Homo sapiens: one gene and its partners. The protein of the gene in region 1 interacts with the protein of each later gene in a biochemical or structural test. Each region holds a gene or a part of one and is shown on either strand. Other genes may lie near its edges.

Region 1 (7,184 bases):
GTAACTAAGTCAAAGAAACTTGTGCTTGCAGAACTTGGAAATCTGAGGACAAACGGAAAGATATTGATAAACTGCATGTCACTGATTCAGTATTCCAAATTCCATCTAAAAAGGTATAATTCACACTTCATAAAATATTTAAAATTAACTCATCAATTTTTTCCTCTTGTAACACCCTATTTCAATGACTTTCTGAAAATATGTTTTAAGGTAGAAAAAAAGTAATTTAATTGAAGATTTGTGGGAAGATTAAGTCAACATAAGAAAAGTCTAAATAATGAGGCAGTGGCACATGCCTATAATCCTGGCTACTCAGGAGGCTGAGGTGGGGGCATGACTTGAGCCCAGGAATTCAAGGATGCAGTGAGCTATGATAGCATCACTGCAGTCCAGCCTGGGCGACAGAGCAAGGCCCTGACTCTAAAAACTGAAAATAAAAAACTGAAAAAAAAATGTGTTGTGAACTTTGATGAGATGCATTCATATAAATCATCCCAAGTATAAAATTTCCCCCACTGATCTATGTTGAAGAGATAGTGTAGCTTTCTTTCACTTTGCAGACATAGACGGAGCACATGTTTCAGCTAGGCAACTCAATGTGGTCATCCTCCACCTGACTGTTCATCCTGTGACTCTTACTGCTATAGTTGCCACCAGAGAATGTGAAAAAGCTCAGAGGAGAAAGAAGAGAGGAAGAATGGGCAATGTGTCTGTGTTGAGTGTGTGTGTCTATGCCTGTGGATGAGAGTGTGTGTCTATTCTTTTCCAAGGAATTCAAAGTGGTTTGTAAAATAACACTCAATTGAATACAGTTCAAGTTACAGAAAAGAGAGTCAGAGTTTGGGTGTATACCCCAAGGTGGAACTTTAGGAACAAGTAGGTAATAAGCATCAATTTCTTTATTCTTTTAGTATGTGTGTCATTTGATGGATGAACTATACAAATGTTTCTGAGAGATTAGTAGCAGCCCTCAAGCACTTTTCTCTGTCCTCAGTGTTCACAGAGACCAAATGATCACATGAAGTAACTCTATCAAAGACTAATCTGTTCTTTCCATTTTAGGGCCACAAATAGGTCTCTTTATACACATCACAGGGGCATATCAAAGTCATATTTTAAAAATCAGAATGGATTAAAATTGACAAACATTTTTCATGATGGTAAAAGAAATCACAGATCCATCAATGATTTTGATTCTTAAGAATATTCTTGATTATTTTTTAAAAGACTATGAGTTTTTAAAACTGTTCTCTGAAATAGAATTATGTAGGTACAGAAACATTCATTTTTAAAAAGTCATAAATATTAGGGCAAAATTAAAAATCTGGAAAAGCAAACAGTCGCATTTTTTACTATTAGCTCAAATACACACGTTCACATTCACCTACCTACACATACCTCTGACTCAGTCCACCTTTTTGACAAGCAATGATGCAAAAATGAATCAAGAGAGAGAACTACCAGCATTTAGAGTATTGATTATCCTAACCCATCACTCATGAACAAGCACCAAACTGACATTTGGGGTTTACCTACCTACATAGAGAACACCCTCTTTTGTCTTTCCTGCTGCTTCTGCCACACCCTGTTTGGTTTTCTCAGCAGCAGCCACAACTCCCTCCTTGGCCTTTGAAAGTCCTTTCATGAATACATCCATGGCTAATGAATTCCTTTACACCACACTGGAAAACATAAAATACACTTTGAATGAGAACTTTCGGGGAAAAATAAACAAAAAACACTGAAAAATCATGAGAAACCCTCCAAAGTGTGAGACTCTTTTAAGTGTACACTCATTTAACCATTGGACAAAGCAGACATTTTTAGCTCTGGCATTAAAAATTTAGCATCTCCCATCCATCTTGGCTAGTAAAAGTCTAGCCACCTAACCACGGATTAGGATGAATCCTCTGAGTTGTTATTACTGCATTTCAGAAGTGGAGTTGCATGAAAAGATTAACCCCTTTTTTAAATTCCCGGGGTCTAAAGGGTAACAGTATGAGTTAGAAGCATGGAAGCTGGAGGCTTAGGGTCAGGGGTATCCTTAACATGAATCCCAGAAGAAGGCTAACAGGTTGATGGTGGAAAGGCGTAGGCAACAGAACTAACTGCTCACTCGGGGTGTGGTTCAAACTCAGGCAAACAGCAGGCCCAAGTGTGATGGTTCTAATCCATCCAACATCCACCCCCGCCCTCAGCTATCTACCCTGAGCAGGCGCCGCTCACACTCGCGGGCCGTCTCCAACCCCGCGCCAGCCACCCGAGGGGGCGTTCTCAGCCTCCACCCTAGCGGACCCCGCGCCAGCACTTGTTAACCCGTTACCACCTGTTGACTTGGCCTCCTTGCACTTCCATTTCATTATTTGCCAAACGCAGCTTGCTTACTTTACAGAGAAAAACCAAGAGAGCGGGCAGACAGATTTTATGTGAGAGAAAAGTTGGATGCTCACGCTCCATGGAGCATCCTCGCGTTTCCCGGGGAAAAGCGGATCCCGGAGAAGCAGCCTAATCTCTCAGCCCTTGTGGAGAAGGGAATATCAGAAGCAGGACGAAAGCCAGGTCAAGTCTCTTTCCTTAGGCTCCCCAAAGGGACAAGTACTCACCTCCCAGAGACCTGGCCCAGCGGGTCCTCATGGCAGCACCACCCCCTCCCGGTGCCCACGACCATTCGTCTCCCATCCGGCGTTCTCCAGGATTTCCAAAGACGCCCGTTTAGATCCACAGGTACTTACCTGAGTCCCTCTGCTTCTCCACAACTCCGACTCCTCCCCGCCTCTCTCTTTTTTTAAAAAAAAAATTTAAACAATTCCCAAATAATATTTAATAGGAAAGAAGAAGGAAAAGGAGCGCACAGGAAGGGCGGAGGCGGCACCCGGGGGGGACTGTCCCCAGAGGAGGCCGCTGTGAGCCGGCGACGCGAGGCTGGGGGAGTGGGAGGCAAACCCGCTAACCTGTCGTCGAATGGCCACTCCCAGTTCTCCGCTCACGAGGGTGGAAAGGCAGAAGGCTTGAAGGCAAGGCGTGAGGGAGCGCCCAGGACGCTCTCGGAGGGGCCGGGCCGGGGTCTGCGCTGCAGCCCGCACGCACCTCACTTCCGCGTCGCGGCGCTCGGTCGCTCGCCCCCTCTCTTGGGCCCCTTCTGGTCGTCGCCGTCCTCCTCCTCCTAGTCCTCCTCCTTCTCCTTCTCCTCGGCTCTCCGCCCCCACCGCTGATTTGTCAGCGCTTCTGCCCGCCCCTCTCCCGGCGCTCGCTGCTTTCCCTGCAGCGTGCTCCTCGTCCCTATCTCGGATGGGGATGGGGCAGGGGGCGCGGGGTGAGCCATCAACTCCAGCCGCCTGCCTGGCCGCGCAAGGCGGGAAAGTGGGGGCGCTTTTGCGCCTCACGTTAAGTTTAGGGTCACGAGCACTCTTGTGGAGATCGGGAGCGGTTGGGCTAGGGATGATGCCTCTTCCTCTTTCCCCTTCCCCTCCCTTCTTGTCCCCGCCTTTCCTCTGGGTCCTCCCGGGGACCACCCCCTACCCCTCGTCAGAGTCGCCCTGGGAGAGCCGAGGGCCTGAGGGTCGACCACCAAGGGCAGAGCCTATCCCTTGGGGAGCTGCTGGAGGAGACAGGCAGCGCCGGGAGGTGGCTCACACCGCACCGCCGAGAGCGCTTTGCCCTCGCATCGCTGAAATTTAATCACGGTCACAGGTTACAACGTTAGGGGTCGCTTTAGTTCAAATATCTTCAAGGTTTTCGTTTGCTCTTAATCTAGGAAGAGCCGGAAAGGGTCCTGAGGGTGAAAGGGAGACTACTAAGGAAGAGTCACAGGTTGAGGAGGCAGGAGAAGGCTCAGCAAATCCTCTTTCCACGCCACTATCACCATTTTCCTTTCCACCAATCAGCGCCTGCCAGACGCTGATTTTCCCATCAGTGGAACAAGGAATAAATATTCCCCAGCCGTCTAAAACAAGCGGTCCTAAGGCTTTTCGCTCTAGAAATGGGACTTACTTTGCAGACCTCCCTTTATCTGGGAGACAAATCCAGCGTGATTTAGCCTACCGGACCATCATATCCAATTTCTTCTTCAGCCCCTTCTGAAAGGGAGATGCTACACACCACTCACCTTTCTGACTTCTGATTCTCGTTGCCCTCAGAATTGACACCCCCTTTTCTCTCCCCCCACCCACCACACGCACATGCACACAGACATACACACGCGAACTTCAAGACAATTTTTGCATCGCTTAACACATTTTCACCTCTTTCAGAGCTGGAAGACAGCTGTTCCTGGATCACACCAGAATGGAGAAGCAAGCTCCTCCCACTAGCAGAAAGCCTTTGCTTTCTGTGCCTGGATTCGGAAGATTAGTTAAGCACTGGAAGAGGAGGGGGGAAACAACAACTCGTTTTTGCTGTATGTTTTTTTTTTAATTGTTTTTATATTTATAGAAAGTTATGCTTTGTCTGATTCTTGCGCTAATTTGGGTTCTGAAATTTGAGTAAAATCAAATTTAAACATACAAAACAACTTTAAAACCACAAGGAACAGGAAGCAAATGATTATACATAAAAGACATATAGAAGATAATGCATATGTGTTCAGTGGAAAATAGAAAAGCATGAAAGTAAGATCACAAATATTTATTATTTAAACTCTTCCTTGAACTATTGGTCTGCCCTTTGGAAAAGCAGACTTTCCTTAATGCAGTAGCTCATATTAATATTTTTTGTTTGCTTAGGACCAGAGCAAGAAGGTTGGACTTGGGAGCTAGTTTGCTGTCTGGCTTTGAGACCTTGAACAAGTTTTGTTCTCCTTCTGTTTCCAGTTTTCTTTTTTGTAAATTAGGAGATTAACTCATGTGATCACTCTATTTTCAACTTTTTGTTATGGGAAATATTCAAACATATGCAAAAGTAGACAGAATAAAGGACTCTCATGTGAAGATCATCCAACTTTTACATTTTTTCAATGCATGGCTGATCATGTCTCATCCATAAGTCCACTCACTTTATCACTACCAATCCTCCCTCTTTTTTTTTTTTTTTTACCAAATTCAAGCTTTATATATATCTTTTCAGCTGTAAACATTCAGTATGCATCCACAAAATTTAAGGACTGTTTAAAAATAACCACAATATCATTAGATGATTCTTTAAAATTGCAGTGTAATTTACACCTAGGGAAATGCTCAGATGTTGTGTCCCTTTAAATCAGTTTTGAAAAAGCCATGCATTAGTGTAACCCACACTATTTTGAAGACACAGGACATTTTCATCATTCCAGACAGTTACCTTGTACCTTCATGTGCATATTCTAGAATGTCATAAAGATCTAATCACGTAGTATAAACTTTGTTTTATATTTGTCTGACTTCTTTTACTCAGTATAATATTTGTGAGGTTCGTTCATGTCGTTGCATGAATGGGTGTTTTGTTTTTTATTGCTTTTTGTTGTTTCTTTTTACTACTGTTAATAGTATAAGTTTTCCATTGTGCCTCTTTACAACTAGTATCTCAATAGAGTATTACAACAATTATTTAATATATTATTTCACATGACATATTTATAGTATAACCATGACCTCCTTGAGACCTAGTGCTTTAAGTCAAAGAGGTAAATAAAATGAGATATTTTAGGTCTCATTACAACAGACCAATGTGAGAGAATTATTTCTGGACAGTTGCACTTCTTATAAACGTTTAACATGATTCCAAACTTTTATTTGGTAATTTGTTAGTCCTTTGGCAAAGGACTAATGTACTATGTTATTTAGTCATAACAAGCAGATCAATTACATTTTATGTAACTTTTATAGACAGAGAAACTGAGCTCCAAGAGTTTTGGTGATATGCTGAGATCACCTAGCTATTTTAAGTGGCAGAGCTGAGACAATTTAGCAGAAACTGTTACAGAAGGCACAATTGTCTCCTGAATTAGCAGTTTGTGTCTGAAGCCTCACAGATTGGGTGTGGTAAAGAGTGAGAAGGAAAAAGGTAGAACCCAGCTGTGTTAGAAATAGCCTTCAAATTTGGATGTGACAATGGAAATCAAGAAGAACTTATGTTATTATGAAACAGTTCATTCATATTTAAAGTTTTGCCTTTTCTATATTGGTATTCCTCAATAGGGGGAGATGATTTCTTACTACCTACAAAAAAAGAAAACTGTAAACTAATTTCGTTGTCATTTTGAATTACAACTATATGTTTAACTCTTGTCACTCCTTAAAATGCCTTGAACACAGTAAACATCCAATGAACTTTTAATTACACATAATATTGATAGTGATATTGCATATGTTCTAGGTCTGTATTCTTAAGGAGGGAAAGCTGCTCAAGTACAAAGAAGGGAACTAGAAGTTAAAATAAAGTTTTTTTAATTTTTCTTTTCATTATTGATGGACAGCATGGTCTTCAGTAAATCTTTAGCCTCTCTGAATATAACGTTAAACTAATTGAATGGCTTGTACCTCATAAGAAATATGAAGTTATGAAGTAATAACATATTTGGAAGCATTACTAACATGCATATTCTGTTCATAACTACAATATTCATGTTTTGTTTTCTCTTTGCTAAGTGAAATATAAATATTTTACCAGACCATAATAGGATTCTTTTATCTGGATTTAATTCATTAATTTTGCTATAGATTAACATTCTATGAAATATATGCTTAACCTAGACTTTGTTTACCCCCATAGAACAACTGAATTTTTAGGTATGGTATGTGGTAAACTTGTGCTATAGCAAAGACAGCAGAGTAGAATGGCATGAAAATAAAGATGCTGCCCATTAACAATTGATTAAAGAGAGGACTGATTTAATGTGTTTAAGTTAAGAAAATACAACGTTTATTATCTTTGGATAATATTCCGTATTTGTTGTGAACACAAGGGGTGATGTAATGTTGATGCTGGAGCCACCTGCTTCTTATTCTCTATCTGCACCTTCCTCTCACCTTCTGTAAACCTGTGAGAGAGACGAGGTAGTGAGATTGCGATAGGCTTCTTGTGTAATTTCATAGTGGGTAGAGTAGAGAAAGCCTAATGCATACTGTTGGGAGATCATTATGTATGATTTTGGAAAGGGGGTGAGCATGAGATGGGGGAATAGGGTTACTCTGAAGAAATGGGAAGAGCAATCAAGGAGAAGCATAGTATTCAGATTCTCTAATTTGACCCCATGGCCAACTTCATATTGT
Region 2 (7,000 bases), on another chromosome or scaffold:
TGTTACTGCACTTCCCAGGCCCCCGTTACACTTCAACAGTCTGGTATTCTATCTCATGGGTCTGTATTTTCCAAAGTGTGGCCCACGGAACCCTGCGTCAGAATCTCCGGAGCTTTCAAGGAGGAAAGTGGGAGTTGCAAAATGCAAATTTCTCGATCCCCTTCAAGAGTGGATAGAGCAGAATCTCTAGGGGTGGGACCTGCAAAGCCTCATTTTTCTCAAGCTCCACAAAGACTGAAGTCTGAGAACCGCAGGCCTCACCCTGTGCCGAGGTGTGCTTAGCTCCCCTGCAGTCTGAGAACTTAGCTTTCCTGCAAGTCCAGAAGCTTCCCGCAGCAATGCCCCTGCCGCTGCCCCAGGCATTTGCTGTAACACATACCTGCTGGCCAGACCTGGAGAAGGGCAGCTCTTTGAAGCACCCATGTAGCCAATGGGCAGCTTGGCCAGTGACGAATAAGCACTAGTTTTCTTTTGTTGTTGTTTTGTTTTTTTGTGGTTTTTTTTTTGAGACGGAGTCTTATTCTGATGCCCAGGCTGGAGTGCAATGGCGTGATCTCGGCTCACTGCAACCTCCGCTGCATGGGATCAAGCGAGTCTCCTGCCTCAGCCTCCCGAGTAGCTGATATTACAGGTGTGCAGCACCACGCCTGGCTAATTTTTGTATTTTTAGTAGAGACTTATTTTAGTAGAGACTGGATTTTTGTATTTTCAGTAAAGATTTCTTTAGTAGAGGTTTTACCATGTTGGCCAGGCTGGTCTTGAACTCCTGACCTCAGGTGATCCACCCGCCTCGGCCTCCCAAAGTGCTGGGATTATAGGCATGAGCCACCGCACCCAGCCAGCACCAGTTTTTAGAATTTGACTTCCATGTCTTTTTTAAAAATAATGTTTTTTATAGAGACGGGGTCTGACTATGTTGCTCAGGCTGGTCTTGAACTTCTGGCCTCAAGCGATTCTCCCACCTCAACCTCCCAAAGTGCCGGGATTATAGACGTGAGCCACCGTGCCCTGCGGATTTCCATGTCTTGGATGTTCCTGAAGTAGTACGCTCTGTGGCAATAGGACAAACGAAGCCTCTTATTTTCCACATAAGGAAACAACAGATGGGGCCTCGGCCTCCAGGGCCTCCAGGCTCAGCCTCTCTGCCTCCTCAGACCTCCCATCCTCCTGCCTCCCTGACTTCAGAGACCCAGGGTGACCAGTGGGCTTGGTGGTGGTGGCTCCAAATACTTTTCATGCCTCTTATTTACAGAGTGGTCGTGGGCAAGTCACCTGACCTCCTTAAGCCTATGTCTTCATCTGAAACATAGGGAGACAGCCAGGCATGGTGGCTCATGCCTGTAATGCCATTGTCCCTGAAGTCAAGGAGAGCACACAGGATTAGAAAGCCCATCAGACAAACACAGCTGCGCAAACTGCACAGGGAAGAGAATTCGGACTGCTCCATCTTCAGGCTGCGAACCCTGTGTGAACCCTGCATTGCAGAAAAGGGTCCTCCCGGCTCTAGAAACACAAGCCAGTGAATGGCCACACACGCAAAGGGAGGCTGCTCCCAGCGAAGTAGGCTCCCGAGTACCTCTCTCAGATCTGGGCCCTGCAGGGGGTGGTCTTCTCTGGACTTGCTTAGTCGCTTAAAGAGAAAAATCCACGAAAGCCTTATTATCATCAGGCTTAAACAGGGCCTTAATGAGTCCTTCACGTGGCAGGCACCCACAGCTGGCCCAGCAGGGGCCCCATTCTGAAACAAGGTCGAGGGGCCCAAGGGGGAGGGTCTCTCCACCTGCAGGCAGCCACCGAAGAGCAGGTAAGACCCAAAGGGAAATGCATCACGTTGTTTCAGGTTGTTACAAAGTGTGAGTCCCCTGTAATCCCAGCACTTTGGGAGGCCGAGGTGGGCGGATCACTTGAGGTCAGGAGTTCGAGACTAGGCTGGCCAAAATGGTGAAACCCTGTCTTTACTAAAAATACAAAAATTAGCAGGGCGTGGTGGCCTGTGCCTGTAGTCCCAGCTACTCAGGAGGCTGAGGCAGGAAAACTGCTTGAATTTGGGAAGCAGAGGTTGCAGTATGCCAAGATTGTGCCACTGCACTTCAGCCTGGGTGACACAGTGAGACTCCGTCTCAAAAAAACAACAACAAAAAACAGAGTGTGAGTCAACTGGCCCGATGTTAAGTGAAAAAAAAACAGCAGGATCCAAACGCTACTTAAAATCCTGTCAAAATTCTGGGAATTATCCCTGGATCACATGTATATGAGAAAAACACCAGGCCAGAAAACACGAAGCGAAAAGACAAAAACAATGGGCCTTAGTGAATGGCCATCCTTGGGGGTGCCACTGCACGGCATGTGTGCGAGAAATGCCACCGCAAAGACACGCAGCAGGTGGTGGGCAGGCTCTGGGCAGCTCCCTCAGGCCAGGGAGAAGCAGAGTCACCAAGATCCAAGATCCAGGCCAGGCTTTGGTCACAGCCCGCAGCAAGTGCCATAGGCTGCCCGTGCCACCAAGGAGCAAGTGCAGGTCAGACACCCCTACATGGTGCAGAGTCTAAACCCAGGGGCCTGGAATACTTCACTGGGGCAATGGAAGAGAGAAGTGCTCGGGCAGGCAGGCAGGCTGTCCCTAATCCCCAAAGAGGACGACTGTTTTTTTTTTTTTTTTTTTGAGAAGGAATCTCACTTTTGTCATCCAGGCTGGAGTGCAATGGTGCGATCTCAGCTCACTGCAACCTCTGCCTCCTGGGTTCAAGTGATTCTCCTTCCTCACCCTCCTGAGAAGCTGGGATTACAGGCGCCCGCCACCACGCCCAGCTAATTATTTTGTATTTTTATTAGAGACGGGGTTTTGCCATGTTGGCCAAGCTGGTCTCGAACTCCTGACCTCAGGTGATCCGCCCACCTTGGCCTCCCAAAGTGCTGGGATTACAGGCATGAGCCACCACGCCCAGCCGCGACTGTTCTTAATAGCACTCCTGGCTGCAAAATAACTCAATGGATGCCTTACTGGGTACTCAAAATTGACTGGGTTTTACTCACAGGAGCCCAGGGCAACGGGCCCAGCCTGTGACTGCTCAGCTAAGACCCTCAGGTTTTGCAGCAGACTCCTAACGTCCCTAGCAAGTTAAGCTGCCCAGGGGTTGAGCCCTGAGTGACGTCACCCATTGTGACTTATCCAGGCTGCTGCTCTGTCTCCAGAGACATTTGTCTCCAGAGTCTCATTTGGGGACTGAAAACATGCCATGCTGGGGCTGCCTCTATGGAACCCTGGACTTGGGGCCAGAGAGGCTCCGAGAGCTGCCACTTAGTAGTCATGTGACTGCATTTTCCTCGGGTTTAAAATGAGCTGGTTAGACTCAGTCAAGCAAACTCTCAGAGGCTCGATTTCTTTCTTTTTTTTCCTTTTTCTGTATTTTTTTTTATCATGCTGCAGAATCAGCCTCAATTTCTTCATTGATAAAAAGTGAGGATTCAGGCTGGGAGTGGTGGCTCATGCCTGTAATCCCAGCACTTTGGGAGGCCGAGGCAGGTGGATCACCTGAGGTCAGGCGTTCGAGACCAGCCTGGCCAACATGGTGAAACCCTGTCTCTACTAAAAATACAAAAAATTAGCCGGGCATAGTGGCAGGTGCCTGTAATCCCAGCTACTAGGGAGGCTGAGGTAGGAGAATCGCTTGAACCTGGGAGGTGGAGGATGCAGTGAGCTGAGATCACACCACTGCACTCCGGCCTGGATAACAAAAGCGAAACTCTGTCTCAAAAGAAAAAAAAAAAAAAAGGTAGGGATTCAACATTTGCCTCAGAAATCAAAAGGACTGAGAAGGCAATGAAGACTCCAGTGCTTAGTAAACTGCAAGCTGCTGACCAGCTGCCAGGGGTTATTCATTCTCAGTGGCCTAAGGCCTCCTAAAATGAAGGCTGTACCTCTGAGAGCTTCAGCTTCCTCTAAGATTCAAGAGAACGTTCTTCTTACCAGAGCTGGGTGGTGTCTTTGGAGCGGGCGGGGTTTTTGCTGGAATCCTGGTGGCGTTGGCCTGGCCCTTCTGGCCTGGAGGGGCTGCTCCCCGCGGTGTGGCGATCTTCGTTTTACCATCAGCCCCCTGTAAATGAAACATGATAGAGGGGTTTTTCACCATTGGGAAAAGTTACTGCCACCAAGAGTCAACACCAGCCCCACTCCGCCACCTTGACTCAAAACGTGGCTAAGACTGGGGTGACCCTTTGCCTCCTAGATGCCACTAGTGTCTGCTACAACCACAAGGGCTTGCTGGGCACACAAACCCACATCCCCACCCAAACTCCAAGTTCCCTGAGGACATTTCCTCCCAGAGGAACTGTGTGCATTAGTTATCAGCATGAGTTGTGCCAAGGCCAGCAGAGCTCACAGCAATGATCAGGTCACTCTCCACTCCATGTCAATCATCGGCAGGACATTAGTGCACTACACATATGCAGACATCCATTTTCTGACTCTAATTATGGATTTATTTGGCTGATGGTGGTTGGCTCCACCAGAGGCCCCTGGGGGCAGTGTTGAACCTGACCAAGGATGCTAAAGAGAGCTAGGTCGTGTTCTTTCATTCTCTCGCAAACAACCCTAAGGCCTCAAGAACTCCTTGGGTGTGCTCAGACCAGGCGAGCACCCGAGGAGGCGAGCACCAGCATCACTGACAAAGCTGGCAGAGTCGGGCATGGCACAGTCTAGGGACTAGGGCAGTCCCTGGGTTCCGTTACCCAGCAGATGACCCTTAGACATAACACAAACTCAAAAAAGAAACTGACATTAACCAAGGACCACAAGCTAGTTGAGGGGGCAGTGAGCTCACGGGGCAGTGTTGCTATGGCGTGATGCTGTCCTACCCAGATCAGGGCAATCTGGAAGCATTTCTCTTGCCAAAATCAGGAATGGGCAAAGGAACCCAATGAGAGTAGCAATTTTGGGTTTGTTTTTTAAACAATTTTTGCGACAGGGTCTTGCTCTGTCGCCCAAGCTGGAGCTAACTACAACCTCTGCCTCTGGGGTTCAAGCAATCCTTGTGCCTCAGCCTCCCGAGTAGCTGCGATTACCACCACGCATACCACCACGCCCGGCTAATTTTTGTATTTTTAGTAGAGACAGGGTTTTGCCATGTTAGCCAGGCTGGTCTCGAACTCCTGATCTCAGGTGATCCACCCTCCTCGGCCTCCTAAAGAGCTGGGATTACAGGTGTGAGCCACCGTGCCCAGCCTTAGAGTAGCGATTTCGAAACCAAGGTCCCACCAGGTGTCTTAGGAGCTGCTGCTATGAGAGCCTGTGGGGTGCTGAGAGGGATGGCCCCCAGCTCTCTTTTCCCCTTTGCCCAGAATTCTAACTATTTTACACGGTGCTTCTATGCCAGAACTCATTTGAAGAAAGGTCTTTGAGGCTAAAAAACAAATAAACAAACCCCACATTTGCAAACCACAGCAGAGCAGCCTGGTTCTTTTCAAAGGTGGTTTCCTTACCTTGAGTTTCATCTCCTTTGCTCCAGAACTGCCAGTTCGGGAAGTGACAGAAGAGACGTATTTAGGAGAGGAAGGTGGCTCTGGGCACACAGCAGGGCTGGAGGGTTGGATCAGAGGGTCTGAGCTACCAGGAGTGGGGTGTTTGGGGCTAAGGCAAGGCCTATTTTTCAAGGTTTTAGCAGAGGAACGTGTGGATGTCTTAAACATAAACATAAATAAAATCAAAATAAAAGTCAGCACATGGAGGAGGGAAACAAACTGAAAAAAGGACAGTAACTAAAAATAAATAAGGCAGGTAATGGTTGAAAGCAGTGATCTCCAGGCTGTTTGAATCAGGTACCCTTAATATCCCTTCTGATCAGTAAGAACAGGAAAGTGACCGTCCTCCCCAATCACAGTTCTTTTTCTTTTTCTTTTTCTTTTTTGAGACGGAGTCTCGCTCTGTCGCCCAGGCTGGACTGCAGTGGTGCAATCTCGGCTCACTGCAAGCTCTGCCTCCTGGGTTCACGCCATTCTCCTGCCTCAGCCTCCCGAGTAGCTGGGACTACAGGCGCCCACCACCACGCCCGGCTCGTTTTTTTGTATTTTTAGTAGAGATGGGGTTTCACTGTGTTAGCCAGGATGGTCTCGATCTCCTGACCTCGTGATCCACCCGTCTCGGCCTCCCAAAGTGCTGGGATTACAGGCGTGAGCCACCGCGCCTGGCCCTGACAAAGCTTTTAGAAGAGGACATGAAAAAGGAATGGAAGTTCTAGTACGTTCTTTCTCCAGCCTGTTGGATGTTACTGTGCCCCTGAATTTGGAGACGACTGGTTTAAAGGTGCTTCACATGAGTAAGTTGATGGAGATCATCAAGGTACATGAATCTTAGGATGTTACTCAAGAAAATGTCCCCAAGTGTGTCACGGGGTCTGAAGGGCCTTACTTTCTACTCAATTCCAGGCAAGGTGCTTTTTTACCTGCCCATTAACCCATGGCCTCTTCCACCACACTGACAGACTCATATGGCTACAATCAGGAGTGTGCCCCCCCCAAGTTGGAAAGATTCTACCTGACTTAGGTTACACCCACCCCCACCACACATGTGCTTTCTGATTAAAGTCTCAAATCAAACTAATATTAACACTATCTGGTGAATCCTAATCTGGCCAATGTTAACTCTTTTGTTTGTTTGTTTGTTTGTTTGTTTTAGAGACAGGGTCTCCCTCTGTTGCCCTGGCTGGAGTGCAGTGGTGCCATCACGGCTCACTGCAGCCTCCACCCTTTGGGTTCAAGTGATCCTCCCACCTCTGCCTGGCCAATTAAATTTTTTTTTTGAGATGGGGTCTTGCTATGTTGCCCAGGCTGGTCTAGAACTCTTGGGCTGGGGACATCCTCCCACCTTAGCCTCCCAAAGTGCTGGGATTACAGGCATGAGCCACTGTGCCAAGCCTCCAATGTTATCTCTTTTTCTTTTTTTTTCAGTTTGTCAGTGTAAACAACACTGCTTACTTTTGAACCCATTCCACAAGAGGAAGCAGCC
Region 3 (7,000 bases), on another chromosome or scaffold:
TACAGATCACTGGAGCATAACTATAGTAACTCAATAAGGTAAAAGGAATTACTAACTAATGTACCAAGAGGTTTAAGTGAGCAAATCAAAATTGGTATAAATTTGGGTGAAAAACTAAAGCAATGGAGGTTCCAGCATTTTAGAGATGGGTGGCAGTAACAATTCTCTGTATTGGAAATCCACTTTCCTAGGGCAATTGGCCAGGAAATTTAAAAACATCTCATTTATATTGTAAATAAATTTACACAGGAAAAACTCTTTTTGCAGCAGCCCAGATGATTGTAAATGAAAGCCCAAAAAGTCAACTGATGACTGGAAATTAGCATGGGTTACCGGTGGTAGATGGCCCTGTTCTGCAACTGCGTCGGTGACACTGCATGACCTCAACCTTGAGGAGGGTTCTCTTTGCTGGAAGGAGAGGAAAAGACAGGAAGCATCAAGAAATATATTCTTAAAAGCAACTTTCATTGGTTTAACAAACATATCACTCAACCATATTCACCGCTCTTCGATATTAGAAGGTAATTAAATGAAACATCTTTTCAGAGCAAGGACAGTCATCCTTGAAAAAGTTATCTTTCACTTTAATTTTCAGTTAAGCAGACTGGAATTTTGATTGGTCCTTAGAATTAGTGGCAAAAGTAAGAGGAGACCAAAACTTTCAGAAAGGAGACTCAACAGGACTCTGCAACACTCTAATGCTGCTTTACAAACAGAAAGAAGCTAGCAGTCTTGTAGTTTGCTCTAAGATGCACCCTCAGGGTAAATTTTAATGTGATGTGAATAGACGGAAGAAATAGTGATATGTGGCTACCCAACATTTATTGATTACTACAATTGAAAAAGAGTCAGTTGCATCCTATATTCAGAGGAGCTCAGACATCATCTTGGCCTACTTCTGAAAGATCTGGTATTTATAATTTTAGCTGCTTTTTTTTTTTTTTTTTAAATATAGAGTCTTGTTCTATTGCTCAGGCTGGAGTGCAGTGGCATGATCTCAGTTCACTGCAACCTCTGCCTCCCAGGTTCCAGTGATTCTCCTGTCTCAGCCTCCTGAGTAGCTGGGACTACAAGCCCCCCCCACCACACTTGGCTAATTTTTTGTATTTTTAGTAGAGATGGGGTTTCACCATATTGGTCAGGCTGGTCTCGACCTCCTGACCTCAGATGATTCACCCACCTCGGCCTCCCAAAGTACTGGGATTACAGGTGTGAGCCTCCATGCTCAGCCAATTTTAGCTTCTAAGTGGACTTCAAGTAGTAAAGACAGGAATGATTAAAAATAGTGAGATCAAGCTAAAAAAAAAGATCTACTGTGTAGTGTCTTAATATTCCTCTAACTTGTTTGTATTAGTCTATGTGGTTAAATGAAGCCTAATTGATATGAATGAAGATTAGCAGCAGGTCACACACAGAAGCCAGAGTCTCCTTATCGGCAAGTTCATCCATAGTATCAGTTTCTAGTATTTACTCATTTTTAATATTTTGTGATAAGTAAATGGTACAAGAAGACTCTGTGGTAGGGATGGGGGACAATTCACATCTTCCCACATTGGTTACTGTGAAAGAATCAGTCTTTAATAAAAGTGTCACTCTGTTGCTCAGGCTGGAGTGCAGTGGCGCAATCGTGGCTCACTGCAACCTCTGCCTCCTGGGTTCAAGAAATTTTTGGGCCTTGGCCTCCTGAGTAACTGGAACTACAGGTGCACCCCACCACACCCGGCTAAGTTTTGCATTTTTAGTAGAGACGGGGTTTCACCATGTTGGCCAGGCTGGTCTTGAACTCCTGACCTCAGGTGATCCGCCTGCTTCAGCCTCTCAAAGTGCTGGGATTATAAGCATTAGCCACCGTGCCCAGCCAAAGCTCATGTTCTTCCCCTTGAATACAGGGTAATCCCAATGAGCAAATATCCGATTTGACTCTCATTTAACAGTGAACACGATGTGAAATAATACAACATTGTATTTGGGTCTTAATGATATTTCACAGATCTAGAATAATTAAATTCAGGAGCTCCTCATTTAAATAATTAGAATTGCTAACTTATGATTATTGCTGAAAAAAATTACAGTGTTTACTTGGTTTACTAAAGGTGTGTTACTGCCATGGATTCTGTGGTACCTCCTTGCTTTTATAGGTTTTAAATACAAGGCTTCATTGTTTATGTTGTTTCTATAACAACAGTTTTATCAGTTCAAATATCCCATATATATGCAATTTCTTTTATCCTGTCCATTTAGTACTACATTTTCATCTTGGCGACACATCTCTTTTTGAAAAAGTCACAGAATTTCAAAGTGAAATCACATTAACTGAATGATAAATGCAACTCATGTAATAGAGGCGTATACTGTCTTTTAAAATAAAAACACCATAACCAAAAAGTAACAATTTTGTGAGTACTTACTTGCTTTTACATTGTATGCAGTGCTATCATTTATGTTTGTTATGGTCATAGTAATGACTATTTTTTTTTAGGATGCCATTTTCAGTGGAGTGACTATCATCATTTACTATTGTACATTTTTAAGTTCAGTTTCTTGAGAAACACTGAGACTTCATTTGCTCTTAATTCTATGCACAAGCAGGGATTTTCTATGGGTTATTTCTGCACAGTTTTGTATTGTCAAACATGGAAGTCTTTGTGACTGATTCCATTGGGCTCAGGCATTGGGCCCATCTGAAGCTTCTAGAAAGTATGTTTCTGATGGTTGAGAGCCCAAGTTAAAATGCTACCTTGATGACAGTGTCACAATTTCACAACATTTCTCAAGGGTTCATACTCTGGGACTTAGGAGACGTCTTCTATCTCCCACTCAAACCTTGTCTTGGATGAGCCACTTAAGCATTGTGCCCTTATCAGCGAAATGAGAATGATAAATCCTGCAGAATATGACTTAAGAGGACTGATTAGGCCTGATGGCTTTTAATTGTTACTGTGAAATACTACCTTTGTGATAAAGGTACTATTTTCATGAGCCTTTTGGCTGGGAAAGGAATTCTACAAGGTTAAAGCTAATAATTACAGACATCATGGAGTTTTACTTCTTTGAGTTCTTTATAAACCAAGAAAGTGTTAGTGGTATAAGGGTGAGCAAAGCTGCCTTCCAAATCAAGAAAGATTCTCACCTGCTTGGGCTAATTTTAGTACAGTCCTGCTTCTCCTAGGGAAGGAGGAACTTTGGAAAATGTCAGAGTTAGCTGGGAGCTGGAAGACCCTTGGTCACTATTTACGTAAGAGATTCTCCTTAAGCAACAAAAAACAATAAAACATTGCTCAGCTTTTCTTTCAAACAAGGCCACTACTTACAATCAAAGAGCTGAACTGTTCCCCATTGGAGTCTGGAGTGATCTGAAGCCTTCTGCTTAGTTCCTCTGACAGCTCCTGAGGGCTGGTCCGAGATCCTGGGGAGGCCGGTGGTGGGGGCAGAGCCAGACCGAGAGAGTCTCCAGCGATATTCACTTCCTCTGAAATGGTCTCCCAAGGCTTTCAGAGAAGGAGACACTGGGGTAAACACTAGAAAGAAGTAGGGATCCACCCAGCTCCCCAATGAAACCATGTAACAACAATAGCCCCGGTGATAACTATAATTAACACCTACTAAGTGCCTCTCATGAGGCACACAACCTTCACAATAATCACGAGGAAGATAACTCCCCCAATTAACAGATGAGGAAACTGAGGCACAGAAAATAACCTGCCCAAGGTAACATCTAGCAAGTGGTAGGGCCATGATGTGAATCAAAGAGGCCTGGTTCCAGACAGAGGCTGTGCTCTTAACCACTTTATAACAATGCCTCTCTGAACAGTGACTGATTTCCAGCACTTGTTACTATATGTGTGGGCAAAAAAACAAACACACACACACACTTCTCTGGAGTTTATAAACAATTGTCATGGATTTTCTTTTACTTTTAACCACTGAGGATTCACCGTGGGAGCAGCATAGAAGCTATACGCTGTAATTAAACAATGGTATAAAATAACTTAGAGTGAATGTGTTATGGAATCATTACTTTTGCTTTTCCAAGTTGAATCGCCGCATTCTAAATGATCTTCCTAACACAATGTCTAAGAAGAATGGATTTTTAGTACATAAACAGAGCTGGTAAGATAGCATGGAAGATTATGGCTAATTTGTTGTTTAATTCATAACGTTTTAAGTAACATACCATAACTATTTAAAGGGAAAATTACACATTTCTGTTCACCTAAATTTATATTTTCATGGTAATAAATCTCTTCCAAGTGTCAAAGCGACTCAATAAAAATATGCATATGATACCCAAACAAGTTACAGGGCTCATTCAACAGCTCAACTATGATAAAAACAAGCTGTCATTTAATGAGACATGGTTAGACCCCTGTGAAAAATAAATTACAAACTAAAAATATCTTAAGATTTTCATACTGAAAAATAATGTGGGCTGGACACAGTGGCTCACGCCTGTAATCTAAGCACTTTGGGAGGCCAAGGCAGGTGGATCATGAGGTCAAGAGTTCAAGACCAGCCTGGCCAACATGGTGAAACCCGTCTCTACTAGGAAAAAAAAAAAAAAAAAAAATTAGCCATTGTGATGGCATGCACCTATAACCCCAGCACTTTAGGAGGCTGAGGCAGCAGGCGGATCTCGAGGTCAGGAGATTGAGACCATCCTAGCCAACATGGTGAAACCCCATTTCTACTAAAAATACAAAAACTGGCCGGGTGTGGTGATGCGTGCCTGTAATCCCAGCTACTCAGGAGGCTGAGGCAGGAGAATTGCTCGAACCCAGGAGGCGGAGGTTGCAGTGAGCCAAGACTGCACCACTGCACTCTAGCCTGGGCGACAGAGCAAGACACTGTCTTCAAAAAAAATAAAAATAAAAATAATGTTATTCCCATTTCTATAATATAGAGCCACCTATACTTGTCAAATACGGCTTTTATAGGCACTTTCAAATTAATATTCAGATGGTAATTAATTCCCTGCGTCACTGTAATCTTTACATTCTCAACAATGTTTACTGACAGAAGAAATTATGATATAAAATCAAGCTGGAGAACATGGGAAGAAGGAGCTGCCGGGCTTTGCACCATTCTGGGGACATCGTACCTCGGGGACATCCCCGCCCTCCGAGGGCTCGGGCTCCAAGTCTTCGCTGATGTGCCTGCGGGAGCGGAAGCGCCGGTGTGCTGCCTCCTGGTTGATCTGTCTGATGTTATTGTCCGACTCCGAGGACACGTCCCTGAGCATGCAGGAAAGGGGGAAAGAGAAGAAGAGAAGTGGTTGAGATCGGGCCCTTCATGACAGTTCAATGCTCACGGAGGGCCAGATGGCCACTAAAGTGTCAGCGTCAAACACTGACAACTAGCTGGTCATCCAATGTGAGAATTCTCCCACCATATTACGGCTAAAGTATAGGTTAAGGTTCATTTCAATCAAATAAATGCAGTTTTAAAATGCATTAGTCACACCATTTTGAGCATCTTTCAGGCATACATTTCAAAATATACCTCAGTGTTTAATAAAAAACAGAAATCAAAGTCCTCTGCCCATTTGCCACAGTGACAAGTCAGACCTCTGGAAGCAGAGGTGACAGGCAAGTTCACACAGCAGCTGGGCAGTCCCAATCCTTCTAGAAGTCCAGCAATGACAAGGCAGCTACTTCTGGTCACCAGCAATTTGACCAAAGACTACAAAAGGGACAAATTCAAAGCTGTCATCTGGAGGAAAGTACACCTGATCCAACATGAATTTTTTTCAGCTGCTTTCTAGCTCATTTTAACAGAATCTCAAAATCGTGACACTGCATTTACCTCCTTTACCCTACTTTAAAAATCCTAATAACATCAGGAGATAACCTCTCAAGTCAGCCGGGGTCTGAAGAACACCAAAACATCATACCCTATTTTTTGTCATGTGATGTTCTCAATTCAGGATCTAAAAGTTTTGATTCAATTTGGAAGACTTTTTTGGGCTGGGCATGGTGGCTCATGCCTGTAATCCCAGCACTTTGGGAGGCCAAGGCGGGCGGATCACTTGAGGTCAGGAGCTCAAGACGTACCTGGCCAACATGGCAAAACCCCGCCTCTACTAAAAACACAAAAATTAGCCGAGTGTGGTGATGCGTGCCTGTAGTCCCAGCTACTCAGGAGGCTGAGGCAGGAGAATCACTTGAGCCCAGGAGGCAGAGGTTGCAGTGAGCTGAGAGATCATGTCACTGTACTCTAGCCAGGGCAGCAGAGTGAGACTCCATCTCAAAACAAAACAAAACAAAAAAAAAAAGAAAAAAGAAAACTTTTTTTTTTGCAGTAAATTATAGGCAATCATACTTTGGGGGAAATACTAGTCAGAGGCTTTTAGTGTACAAGTTTAAATGCCAAAAATTTTTTCAGGGAAAACTCTCACAGATACTTTCAATAAGATAACATATCCCATTAACAAAAATTATGTCACAAGTCAGTATCTCAAAAGTTGAAATCGTCATTTCAGACTAACTGAAATATAGTACTTATCAAGAACACTCATTATAGACTCTTTCTAAAACACAAATTTTAAAGTTTTCTCACACATTCTGAAATGAACTTATACTGTATCCCAATAAAGGGCCTGCTAGCAGAGGTTGTGGTGGAAACTCTTTTTCCTTAACTAACTTTCCTCTTGCCTTCTAGAAGTTATGCCCATTGGAAGGAGGCGCTCCTCAGGTTCTGCCAAGTTCTGCTGTGTCCTTCCTGGCTCAGCCTCTCCCTTTGGCATTGCTGCCTCCTTGATGGGGCAGTTATGCCTCTGCCTTCTCCCAAAACTACATGTGAGCCCGAACTTGGATTAAGAACTGCATTTTTCAGCCGGGCGTGGTGGGTCATACCTGTAATCCTAGCACTTTGGGAGGCTGAGGTGGGCGGATCACCTGAGGTCAGGAGTTTGAAACCAGCTTGACCAAGCCAGTGAAACCCCATCTTCACAAAAATACAAACATTAGCTGGGCATGGCGGCGGGCGCCTGTAATCCCAGCTA

Evidence for each region. Proteins that work in one complex are often made in the same cells at the same time.
Region 2: the proteins of SNCA (region 1) and MAPT form a complex in vitro, tested with the Homo sapiens proteins (3 studies listed by BioGRID and IntAct).
Region 3: of the proteins of SNCA (region 1) and NEDD4L, one has a biochemical effect on the other in vitro, tested with the Homo sapiens proteins (3 studies listed by BioGRID).

The regions. Positions count from the first base shown.
Region 1 is NC_000004.12:89,834,011-89,841,194, forward strand, and holds the start of SNCA (alpha-synuclein), read right to left. Parts: upstream 3,152-7,184; 5' UTR 2,952-3,151; exon of another isoform or gene 2,733-2,951; intron 2,725-2,732; exon of another isoform or gene 2,391-2,724; intron 2,231-2,390; exon of another isoform or gene 2,117-2,230; intron 1,683-2,116; 5' UTR 1,658-1,682; coding exon 1,537-1,657; intron 1-1,536. UniProt on the Homo sapiens protein: Neuronal protein that plays several roles in synaptic activity such as regulation of synaptic vesicle trafficking and subsequent neurotransmitter release.
Region 2 is NC_000017.11:45,988,554-45,995,553, reverse strand, and holds part of MAPT (microtubule-associated protein tau), read right to left. Parts: intron 5,677-7,000; coding exon 5,479-5,676; intron 4,095-5,478; coding exon 3,968-4,094; intron 1,631-3,967; coding exon of another isoform or gene 1,577-1,630; intron 1-1,576. UniProt on the Homo sapiens protein: Promotes microtubule assembly and stability, and might be involved in the establishment and maintenance of neuronal polarity.
Region 3 is NC_000018.10:58,327,226-58,334,225, reverse strand, and holds part of NEDD4L (E3 ubiquitin-protein ligase NEDD4-like), read right to left. Parts: intron 5,232-7,000; coding exon 5,099-5,231; intron 3,489-5,098; coding exon 3,312-3,488; intron 409-3,311; coding exon 334-408; intron 1-333. UniProt on the Homo sapiens protein: E3 ubiquitin-protein ligase that mediates the polyubiquitination of lysine and cysteine residues on target proteins and is thereby implicated in the regulation of various signaling pathways including autophagy, innate immunity or DNA repair.